Homo sapiens: one gene and its partners. The protein of the gene in region 1 purifies or fractionates together with the protein of each later gene. This does not show direct contact. Each region holds a gene or a part of one and is shown on either strand. Other genes may lie near its edges.

Region 1 (3,451 bases):
CCAGGCCAGGCGCGGCGGTTCACGCCAGTAATCCCAGCAATTTGGGAGGCTGAGGCAGGAGGATTGCTGGAGGCCAGGAATTTGATTCCAGCCTAGGCAACATAGCAAGACCCTATATCTACCAAAAGTAAAAAAAAAATAGCCAGGCGTGTTGGCATGCACCCATAGTCCCACCTACTCAGGAGGCCGCAGCAGGAGGATCACTTGAGTCCAGGACTTTGAAGCTGCAGTGAGCTATGATTGCACTGCTGCATTCCAGCCTGGACAGTAGAGTGAGGTCCTGGCTCAAAAACAAAAAAGTCTCCTCTCCATCTCTAGTAAAAGTAGAAAGCTTTAGTCTGTGCTTCTCTGGAAAGCAAACTCAATCGTTTTCCTAATGATGAGCATTGAACTGGCCCTGGTAAAGTTTCCACTCATTCTTTTTCAGTCTAAAGCCGCATTTGAAAGGGAAAGTGATGTCCCTCTGAAAACTGAGGAATTTGAAGTGACCAAAACAGCAGGTACGGAAAGATGGGGATGGGGTAGAGGTGACGCCACCCCCATCCAAGGGTGGGCAATCGGGGCAGTTTGGAGAGGGGGGTCAGCCATAGGGGTCCTGGAGACTGTAGACCAGGCATCCACAAACTGATTCTATAAAGGCCACCTCGTCAATATCTTCAGCTTTGTGGCACTGTGGGTTCTGTCTAGAGCTGTGCCATTGTGGCACAAAGCTGCTGCAGACAGTATGTCCATGCGTGGGTGTGGCTGTGTGCCACTAGAACTTTATCTTAGCTGGGCGCGGTGGCTCATGCCTGTTACCGCAGCTGCTCAGGAGGCTAAGGTGGGAGGATCATTGGAGCCCAGGAGGTCAAGACCAGCCTGGGCAACATAGCGAGACCCTGTCTCTACAAAATTTTTTTAAAAATCAGGCTGGGTGCGGTGGCTCACGCCTGTAATCCCAGCACTTTGGGAGGACGAGGCGGGCGGAACACTTGAGGTCAGGAGTTCCAGACCAGCTGGCCAACATAATGAAACCCCATCTCTACTAAAAATGCAAAAAATTAGCCAGGCGTGGTGGTGCGCACCTGTAATCCCAGCTATTCAGGAGAATTGCTGGAACCTGGGAGGTGGAGGTTGCAGTGAGCTGAGATCATGCCACTGCACTCTAGCCTGGAAGACAGCAAGATTCTGTCTCAAAAAGAAAAAAAATTAGCCGGGCATGGTGGTGTGTACCTGTAGTCTCAGCTACTTAGGAGGCTGAGGTGGGAGGATTATTTGAGCCCAGGAGGTCGAGGCTGCATTGAGCTATGATCGCACCACTGCACTCCAGCCTGGGCATCAGAGTAAGACTCTGTCTCAAAAACAATAAACAGGGCTGGGCATGGTGGCTCACACCTGTAATCCCAGCACTTTGGGAGGCCAGGAGTTCCAGACCAGCCTAGCCAACATGGTGAAACCCCTTCTCTACTAAAAATACCAAAATTAGCCAAGGATGGTGGCACATGCTTGTAATCCCAGCTACTCAGGAGGCAGAGACAGGAGAATCTCTTGAACTTAGGAGCAGGAGGTTGCAGTGAGTCGAGACTGCACCACTGCACTCCAGCCTAGGCAACAGAGGAAGACTCTCATCTCAAAAAAAATAATAAATTTTAAAAAATAAATAAATGAAATAAAACAAAGTAGAAACCATCAGGGCTTTGAGGTTGGGACTGTGGCATGCCGAGGGGAGGCTGCAGGGGTCACTGGGAAACATCAGGGTCCTTCTTCGGTTGCCTGAGCAGCACCGGTGTCCTCAAGCCACATTCAGCTGCATGGCGCCAATGCTAAGCAGAAAGAGGAATCGGAGGCGCCGAGCTGGGGCAAGGGTGGGAGCCAAGGGAGTGGACACAGCAGGTAGGGCCGGGAGACTTGGGTGAAGCAGTGGAAGCCAGAGTTCTGACCCTGCTGGAGAAGTGTCATGAGGGCCTCAGACAGGTTCACCCACTGAGCAGGAGGTCTTGCAGCCTGACCCACCCTGCATCCTGTTCAGGCCGGGATCATCTCCTTCCTGGGCTTCTTCTGGCCCCTTTCTGCATCTCTTCTTGACAACATGGCACAAATGACCAGGGTTCTTCCCACCTCAGGTCTTTCTGTGGCTTCCTGCTGCCTGCCATCTATGTTAGCCCCACCGACCTTACCCTCCACATCACTGTTTTCCTGTCTGTCACCCGTAAGACTTTCAGTGCCTGGGGCCTTTTCACATGGGAGTCTGCTTTGGAGACTGCTCCCCTTGCCTGCTTAGCCCCCACCATGGGCCCCACCCCAAATCCTCCGGACTTCTGAGAATTTTCAATGTTGAGGGCCCAACCATGTGTTTCTTTCTTGCAGTGGCTCACAGGCCCGGGGCATTCAAAGCTGAGCTGTCCAAGCTGGTGATTGTGGCCAAGGCATCGCGCACTGAGCTGTGACCAGCAGCCCTGTTGCGGGTGGCACCTTCTCATCTCCGGTGAAGCTGAAGGGGCCTGTGTCCCTGAAAGGGCCAGCACATCACTGGTTTTCTAGGAGGGACTCTTAAGTTTTCTACCTGGGCTGACGTTGCCTTGTCCGGAGGGGCTTGCAGGGTGGCTGAAGCCCTGGGGCAGAGAACAGAGGGTCCAGGGCCCTCCTGGCTCCCAACAGCTTCTCAGTTCCCACTTCCTGCTGAGCTCTTCTGGACTCAGGATCGCAGATCCGGGGCACAAAGAGGGTGGGGAACATGGGGGCTATGCTGGGGAAAGCAGCCATGCTCCCCCCGACCTCCAGCCGAGCATCCTTCATGAGCCTGCAGAACTGCTTTCCTATGTTTACCCAGGGGACCTCCTTTCAGATGAACTGGGAAGAGATGAAATGTTTTTTCATATTTAAATAAATAAGAACATTAAAAAGCAACCCCACAGCCTGGGCCCTCCCGGCTGGCCGTTGCGGGTCAGGAGCTCAGACGCGGCTGACACTGCCCCACCGTGGGCGGGTGGGCGGTGTCTCTGGGTGGGACTTCTCTGCAGGCATCAAAGCGCTAGATCCCAAGGTGGCTGTATGTGAACTTGCCCCCTTCCCCCCTTGGCACTCGCTGTCCCTGGGTCCCCCACATGTTGTGAATTCACACCCGGGTTTCTGTGGCTGCCACAGGCCCCAGCGCGGGAGGATGTTCCAAGGCCGACCTGCTCTCTGCAGCCTGGGGCATTGGTTTCCCTTAGTTTGTTTTTCTTTTGAGACAGGGTCTTCTCCTGTCACCCAGGCTGAAGTGTAGTGGTGTAACACGGCTCACTGCAACCTCCACCTCCTGGGCTCAAGCGATCTTGCCACCTCAGCCTTCCAAGTAGCTGGGACTACAGGCACACGCCACCATGCCCGGCTAATTTTTGCATCTTCTTTTGATAGAGACAGCGTTTTGCCATGTTGCTCAGGCTGGTTTCGAACTGAGCTCAAGCAATCCACCTGTCTCGGCCTCCCAAAG
Region 2 (3,653 bases), on another chromosome or scaffold:
GCTGCGTTGGCAGCCATTTTCCAGGAGTGTCCCTGAAACTTGCTTTTCAGCTGCTCCCTGGTGGCTTTGGCATTGGACAGGGGTGGCCAGCCAGGTACATGCTGACTGTATCCTTCCCCCAAGGAGCTCCAGTTCACTGTCCCCTATTGCCACCCTACATCAGCAGGGCCTCTTTCCACATACCAGTTTGCAACCACTTCTAAATAATTAGCTTTGTGATCTTACATTGGGGGGTTGAAGACACTCATGGAGTGTGGGGTTAAAAGAGCCTTTATTCCTCAAAGTCATACTGAGGCCCCAGTCTGATGCACATTCCATTCCTAGATGGTGTGATGGTGGGCCTGTGTCTGGCTTCAGAGTTTCCAGCTCACTAGAGTTGCGGGGGCGCAAGGGTGGAGTGTCCATTCCCTGCAAAGAATCCTACAGTTCCTCCAACCCCTTGGCGCAGGCAGATTTCTGGAAGTCGTGAGCAGGTCCTTTAATCCTTGTTGGAAGATGTTGATGAAAATCAAGGTTGAGGGTTGTAAACTGGGGCTTAAACATAAAGGTGATCCAGTATCTGAGCCCAGATGTGGGCCTGGTAGGAAAGCTCTGTTGTTTGGGCCAAGTAGGGAAGGGTCTTGAGGAACGAGTGGGTTTGTTCTCATCACAGGGTCTAGTCTTACTGGGTCCTGGGCAGAGTATTAGTACATGCCCCTATTTCAAAGGAAGGTGGACCAACATCAGCATCCTACATGTGCCACAGATGTTCATTCATTCAACAGATACTTCTTTTTTTTCCCAAATGGATATTTCCTTGAGAATCTTTTATGAGCCAGGCCTCATGCTAAGGCATTGGGGATAACCATAAATAAGACAGACACCATCTCTTTCTCTCATGGCCTAGTGGGACAGCCACTGATTAATTATTTAATTCAGGTAGTAAGTGCTGGAAAGAGAAAGTGTTAATATAATGTGGTAAGAGAATGTATAACAGGGATCCCTAACCTAATTCAAGGAGTCAGGAAAGCCTTCTCTGAGAACCTCTGGGTCTTTCTTAGAATAATGTTTTTAAATGTATAAAGTAAAATGCATAGAATTACAAAGAAAGCAGTTTTATTGAAATACAGTTATCAAAATATAACAACAAGGTTGTGATAAAATAATATTTATGTTTATTAATGCATCATATAAAAAGATCAAAGGTACAAGCTTGATAACTTCTATAATTTTAAGTTGTGATGAGCATAAATAGTGTTTCAGGATATCTTGTAATGTGATAAGAAAATATGATTTCTGTTGGTGGCAAAGTCACAGACACTGCTACCCTAATTACTACTGTAATTTGTTATCTACATTCATAAATGTAGAAAGCATTTATACATTTATAAATACATTCATAATACAGGAAAGGCTAAATTTCAGTTAGAGGTTAGTGAAGATAAAGATGTCATTTTTCTCCATCCAAATTCGTAGACTACAGTGGAAAAAAATTATATAACACTTGGAAATAAAAGATGATTTTGTGACATTTTAGTATCATACTGGAGTATTGTATAAGAAACCACCTAAGGACCAGCTGTGTTCTAGGGGATGTAACTCTGTTTATTATTTTTTATGGGCCATACTTTGTAAAGTTAAGTAGGATGCAAATTATTTCTGTTTGGTAAAGAAGAGAAGCACAAAGATTATTGCCCTGAAGGACATTAACCTGTTGGTATCTAATGTAGCAATCTTATATCAGGATTATATCCTCTTTTTTAGGGTCTCTTATTAGCGAGTTAAGTAAAACTTTGAAATATGCTCAATACCTATTTGTATGAGAATTAGGCTTTTAACATTTTAGAACTGTACTTGACTCCAGTTCAACTGCTGAGTGAGCAGGACGTAAAGATGTGTTGCTTAGAAGAGAGGTCTGATCTGGAGATGTTAATTTAGGGGTGCTGTTCAGGAGAGTGGGTGAAGTTGGCTGGGGGACCATATAGGGTAGGAAGAGAGGGTAGACTGAGTGAGCTGTGGAACTTCAACATTGAAAGAATGGGGAGAGGAGGGTTTACAAAGAAGAAAGGAATGATTGCTAGAGAGGTAGGAGGGAAACCAAGTGTCGCATCCAGTTCAAGAGGCCAAACAAGATGAGAACTGGAAGTGCCTGTAGGGTTTATCTATAGGAGGTCATTGTTGAGCCTTCACCAAGAGCCTTTTTTGTGGTGGTTGTGGGGAGGGCAGATTTCAGAGGGATGAGCAATGGAAGGAGGGAGGAGAATGGGAGGAGCAGGGGAGATGGAAAATTCTGGCTGTGAGTGGAGAGGGGAGTGATATGGGGTCCAGAGAGAGAGTTTTTAAAAGATGGGTCAGTGATGGAGTTTCTTCACCTTAAGGAGATATGTGTAAAATGGATTCCTGGGCTCCCAGCCCCTGGAGATGTTTTTCTTCAAGAATAAAGCCCAGGAATCTGTATTCCCAGAATACCGAGCTCTGCGGTAAAGCTACAAAACTAGACACATTTCCAAGTTAATCTTATATGGCTGGTGGTATTTTGCCAGCCGAGGTGGGTGCTCTCAATTGAGTGTGTAGCACAAGTTCTGCTCACATTGGAGCTGTGTCACCATTGTCTGCTTGGTGTCACTTGGCCTGAGCATGTGCTTTTCTCTGAAGGGATTTGGGGGTTTGTGGACATGCTGGTAGCAGAGGGAAGATGGATCAGGTTGTCATTGTAGCTCTTTTCAGCAGGTCACGCTCAATAGCTGGATTGGAAGGGACAGCAGACTTGCCAGCCTCTCGGGTATTATTCTGGGTGGAGCAACGGGGAGTGGATGATGCTCCAGGGATGTCTGTGGGAACTATTCACATTGACAGCCCAAGAGAAAAGCATCAGATCTGTCCTGGCGGGGACCTGGCTCTACTGTTTTAGGCTTAATCCGAGGCAAATCCCTTCTCTGAGCCTCAGTTTTCACATCTCTAAAGTGGGGATAGTACCACCTCTGCCTATAAACACTCATTGTTTATGACAATTTTTCAACTCCTGCAAGAACAGTTATACATTTTACAGTGTAACCCAGTACACACTGGGCTCACTGAATGCATAGTGTTGCTACCTGTGCTACTCACTGATGTTTTCTAGTCAATGTAATTTTTTAAAAATGCTACTGTAACTCACTGATTTTATGACTAGACTCCTGGGTTGAGACCTGAAGGGTGGAAACAGTGGCTTAGACTCTCAGCTTCAGAGGATGAAATGAGATCATGTGTGTAAAAGCATGGATGTACACCGTGGGTCATGAACACTGAGTTGTTATTTTCTTATCAGTTAACGGAGCTTGGAGGCAGAGTTGATTTCCGGAGTGGGAATTCACCTGCTCTTCCTCCCTCCCTGCTGCCTAATTCAATGTTCCCTCTACCAGTTCTTCCTCGTTAACAGGCCTGGCACACCAAGCTGGCGGTGATCCAGACCCCTCTTGGCTCAAGAAGAGGTTTTCCAAAACATTAAAAGCTTTAGGGACTTAAGTCCTGGCTAAATGCACTGCAGTTGCAATTTCAGGATAAGAAAACCTGTTTTCATAAGCTCTCAGATAAGTTGCCCTGCCCCTGAATTGTCCATTGTTGACAGCAACATTTGTGCCATGGGGAATAAAAAGGGGAGACACTGTGCTGCGTAGCCCCAAATGTAAGGTGTG
Region 3 (3,653 bases), on another chromosome or scaffold:
TGAGCCCTCACTGCCCCACGCGCCCCCACCCCTTACCTTTGGTCATGGTGTTGATGATCGCTGTATTGTGAGAGCAGAGGGAAACATGGCTTGAGAGTTTTTCTGAAATGGTGTCAAATGACAATGTTGAATTATTGAGTCTTACTAATTATAGTTCTATAATGTAGCTTATGAAAACCAAACCAAGAAAACTACAGTCCAGTTGTCCTTGATTGGATAACTAGTTATTAATTTCTTTCTTCTCAAAATCTAATTACTTTATTTCTAATTATGAAACACTAAGAATATTCAGTAATGTGAAGGGAATTATATAACAGCCACCCTTTCACATCACCCATATTTGAAAGATAATACCCTTTTGCCCTATATACTTCAAATCAAAACTTTTTAGGGAAATAAAACATAATAAAGCCCACGATCTCCATTTTTTCTCCCCTCTCTTCCCGGTAACCAATTGTCCTAATGGTGATAATTCATTCTCATGCGTGATACTTTTCCTACAGTATATTTATGAATAAAATGTATATTTTTGGTTGTTATTTATTTAGCATCAAAATGTATGTTTTTTGGTTGTTATTTAGAATCAAAATGCTATGTCTTTTTACATAGCATTATGTCTTTGAGATTTTTCAAGTTTTGTATTTCTATTTTTAAATAAAAATAAATATATAAAAAATATAAATATATATAAATAAATATATAAAAAATAAATAAATAAAAATAAAAATAAAAATGTCTCTCTTTGTTGCCCAGACTGGAGTGTAGTGGCATGATCATAGCTTACTGCAGCCTTGAATTCTTGGGTTCAAGTGATCCTCCTTTCAGTCTTCTGAGTAGCTGGGACTACAGGTGCATGCCACCATGCCCGGCTAATTAAAAAAATTTTTTTGTAGAGACGGGGTCTCCCTATGTTGCTCATGCTGGTCTCATACTCCTGGCCTCAAGCTATGACCATGCCTCGACCTCTCAAAGTGCTGGGATTACAGGCCTGAGCCACCATGCGGGTCTGGAGATTTATTATATTGATAAATTACAGGTGCAGCCTGTTCATCGAACTGTTGTGTAATATTCTTTTTATGAATGTATTTGTTTTCTAGGGCTGCCATAACATTACCAGATACTGGGTGACTTAAAGCAACACAGTGCCTCATAGTTCTGGAGGCCAGGAGTCCAAATTGAAAGTGTCAGCAGGGCTCTGCTCTTTCTGAAACCTGTAAAGGAGAGCCCTTCCTTGCCTATTCCAGCGTCTGGTGGGGGGCCAGCAATCCTTGGCTTGCAGGTGCATCCTTCCCATCTCCACCTCCATCTTCACACGGCCTTCTCTTCTGTGCGTCTGTTGTGTCTTTGTCCACGTTTTCCCCTCCTTAGAAGGACACCAGTCATTGGATTTATGGTCTACTGTACTCCAGTATGACCTCATCTTAACTACAGGACATCTGCAAGGACCCTGTGTCTAGTTAAGGTCACATGCACGGGGAGTGGGGGATAGGACTTAAACATGTATTTTGGGGGAATACAATTCAACCTACATCAATCAATAAATTACAGTTTATTCATTCTCCTGTTGATGGTCAATTAGATTGGTTCCAGGTGTTGTCATCATATTAGTGGTGCCAAGAACATTTTTCCATAATCACTGCATGTGCCTGTGTGGGCATGTGCAAATTTCTCTCTCTCTCTCTCTTTTTTTTAGATAGGGTCTCACTCTTAACACCAAGCCTGGAGTGCAGTGGTGCAGTCTTGACCTCCTGGGCTCAAGCAATCCTTCCACCTCAGCCTCCTGAGTAGCTGGGACCACAGGTGCACACACCACCATGCCTGGCTAATTTTTCTGCTTTTTTTTTTTTTTGGAGAGATGGGGTTTTACCATGTTGCCCAGGATGGTCTCGAACTCCTGGGCTCAAATGATCCCCCCGGCCTTGGCCTCCCAAAGTGCTGGGATTACAGGCATGAGCCACCATGTCCCACCACATGTGACATGAATTTCTCTAGGGAAACATCTAGTGGTGGGATATCTAGGGTGCGGGGCATCTGCTTCTTTAACTTTGCTAGACTCCTTCCAGGGTTTGTATCATTTCACATGCCCTCCCATTTCCCTACAAGTGTACCATCATCTCTGTGTTAACAGACTTTTGCCAATCTGCAAGATGGAAAATAGTATTTCATTCTTGTTTTTATTATAGTTTCCTTAAGAACAGTGAGGTTGAATATCTGTTCATATGTTTATGGGCCATTCAGGTGTACTTTTTTGTAAATTGCCCATTCATATGAATTTTTCTATTGGGTTGTCTTTTTCTTGGTGACTTATAAGAATTCTTTATATATTTTATCTAGACACTAAGTCCTCTGTTCCTAAAATAATACCTTCTCCTAGTCTATCTTGTTTTCTCACTTTGTTTATGGAGACTTTTATCTTGATATTAATGTTAATCATTATCTTATTAATCTTTCATCTTAGTTACTATCTTATTAATGCAATTTTAAGAGCTTTTTGTCATGGAAAATCTCAAGCATATATAAAAGTAGAGAGATTAGTACACAGGACACTCCAGCTGCACCACCATCAGCACGTGGACACCTTGTCCACCCTACCCCACATGGAGCTATTTTGGGTTTTTGTTTGTTTGTTTTTTGAGATGGAGTCTTGCTCTGTCGCCCAGGCTGGAGTGCAGTGGCGCGATCTCGTCTGACTGCAGCCTTTGCCTCCTGGATTCCAGTGATTCTCATGCCTCAGCCTCCGGAGTAGCTGGGATTACAGGCGCTCACCACCATGCCTGGCTAATTTTTGTATTTTTAGTAGAAACGGGGTTTTGCCATGTTGGCCAGGCTGCTCTCGAACTCCTGACCTCAGGTGATCCACCAGCCTTGGCCTCCCAGAGTGCTGGGATTACAGGTGTGAGCCACCGCACTCAGCCCAAATGGGGCTATTCTGAAGTAAATCCCAGACCTCTGGTCATGTCATCTGTGGGTACATCATGATATCATGATGCATCTATGAAAGACAAGGACTCAAAAACACATGGCTGCAATGCCATCATCTTCCCCTGCCAAAATTCACAATAATTTGCAATTTCATCAAATATCCACTTAGTATTCAGTTTTCTGCAGTTGTCTTTCCTTTTTTTTTAAATTGGTTACCATGAAATGGGATTTATAATCCTTTTCTTTATGGTTTATGTTTTTTGGGTCAAATTTAAGAAATTCTGCCTTATTCCAAAGTACAAGAAAAAAGTATTCAGTATTTCCTTCTGATTGTTGAAATTTCGCCTTTCCTACTTAGATTTCTAGCCACGCACTGGGGTATGTGGGGATCCATGGTGATTTGTTTTCTTACCTGGGTAGCTCAGTGCTGCAGCCGTGCCCCATTGATGGCCAGTCCCTCCTCCCCCCACAGGTCCCTCCTGCCCCCTCTCATGACTACAGAGCCCATTGTATCTGACCCCCTCTCTCTGCCTGCTCTGCGCCTGCTCTTCGCCTGTTCCCACTGCTGGACCTGGCTGGAGGAAACAGCCATACGTACTTCTCGCTGGTCCCCTGTTTTCCTGCTTATCCTCTCCCCAGCCCTCGTCCCGCCTCTCACCCTGAGCTGCTGACTCTGCTTCTCAGTTCTGTGAGCAAACAGATGCCAACAGGGAGCATCCACACTCTCCCGC

What was found.
Region 2: the proteins of MYDGF (region 1) and PDIA5 purify together in Homo sapiens (affinity purification with mass spectrometry; one large-scale study listed by BioGRID and IntAct). This does not show direct contact.
Region 3: the proteins of MYDGF (region 1) and CMBL fractionate together in Homo sapiens (co-fractionation; one large-scale study listed by BioGRID). This does not show direct contact.

Annotation. Positions count from the first base shown.
Region 1 is NC_000019.10:4,656,980-4,660,430, reverse strand, and holds the end of MYDGF (myeloid-derived growth factor precursor), read left to right. Parts: intron 1-427; coding exon 428-500; intron 501-2,346; coding exon 2,347-2,426; 3' UTR 2,427-2,886; downstream 2,887-3,451. UniProt on the Homo sapiens protein: Bone marrow-derived monocyte and paracrine-acting protein that promotes cardiac myocyte survival and adaptive angiogenesis for cardiac protection and/or repair after myocardial infarction (MI).
Region 2 is NC_000003.12:123,073,381-123,077,033, forward strand, and holds part of PDIA5 (protein disulfide-isomerase A5 precursor), read left to right. Parts: intron 1-3,653.
Region 3 is NC_000005.10:10,297,873-10,301,525, reverse strand, and holds part of CMBL (carboxymethylenebutenolidase homolog), read left to right. Parts: intron 1-3,653. UniProt on the Homo sapiens protein: Cysteine hydrolase. Can convert the prodrug olmesartan medoxomil into its pharmacologically active metabolite olmerstatan, an angiotensin receptor blocker, in liver and intestine. May also activate beta-lactam antibiotics faropenem medoxomil and lenampicillin.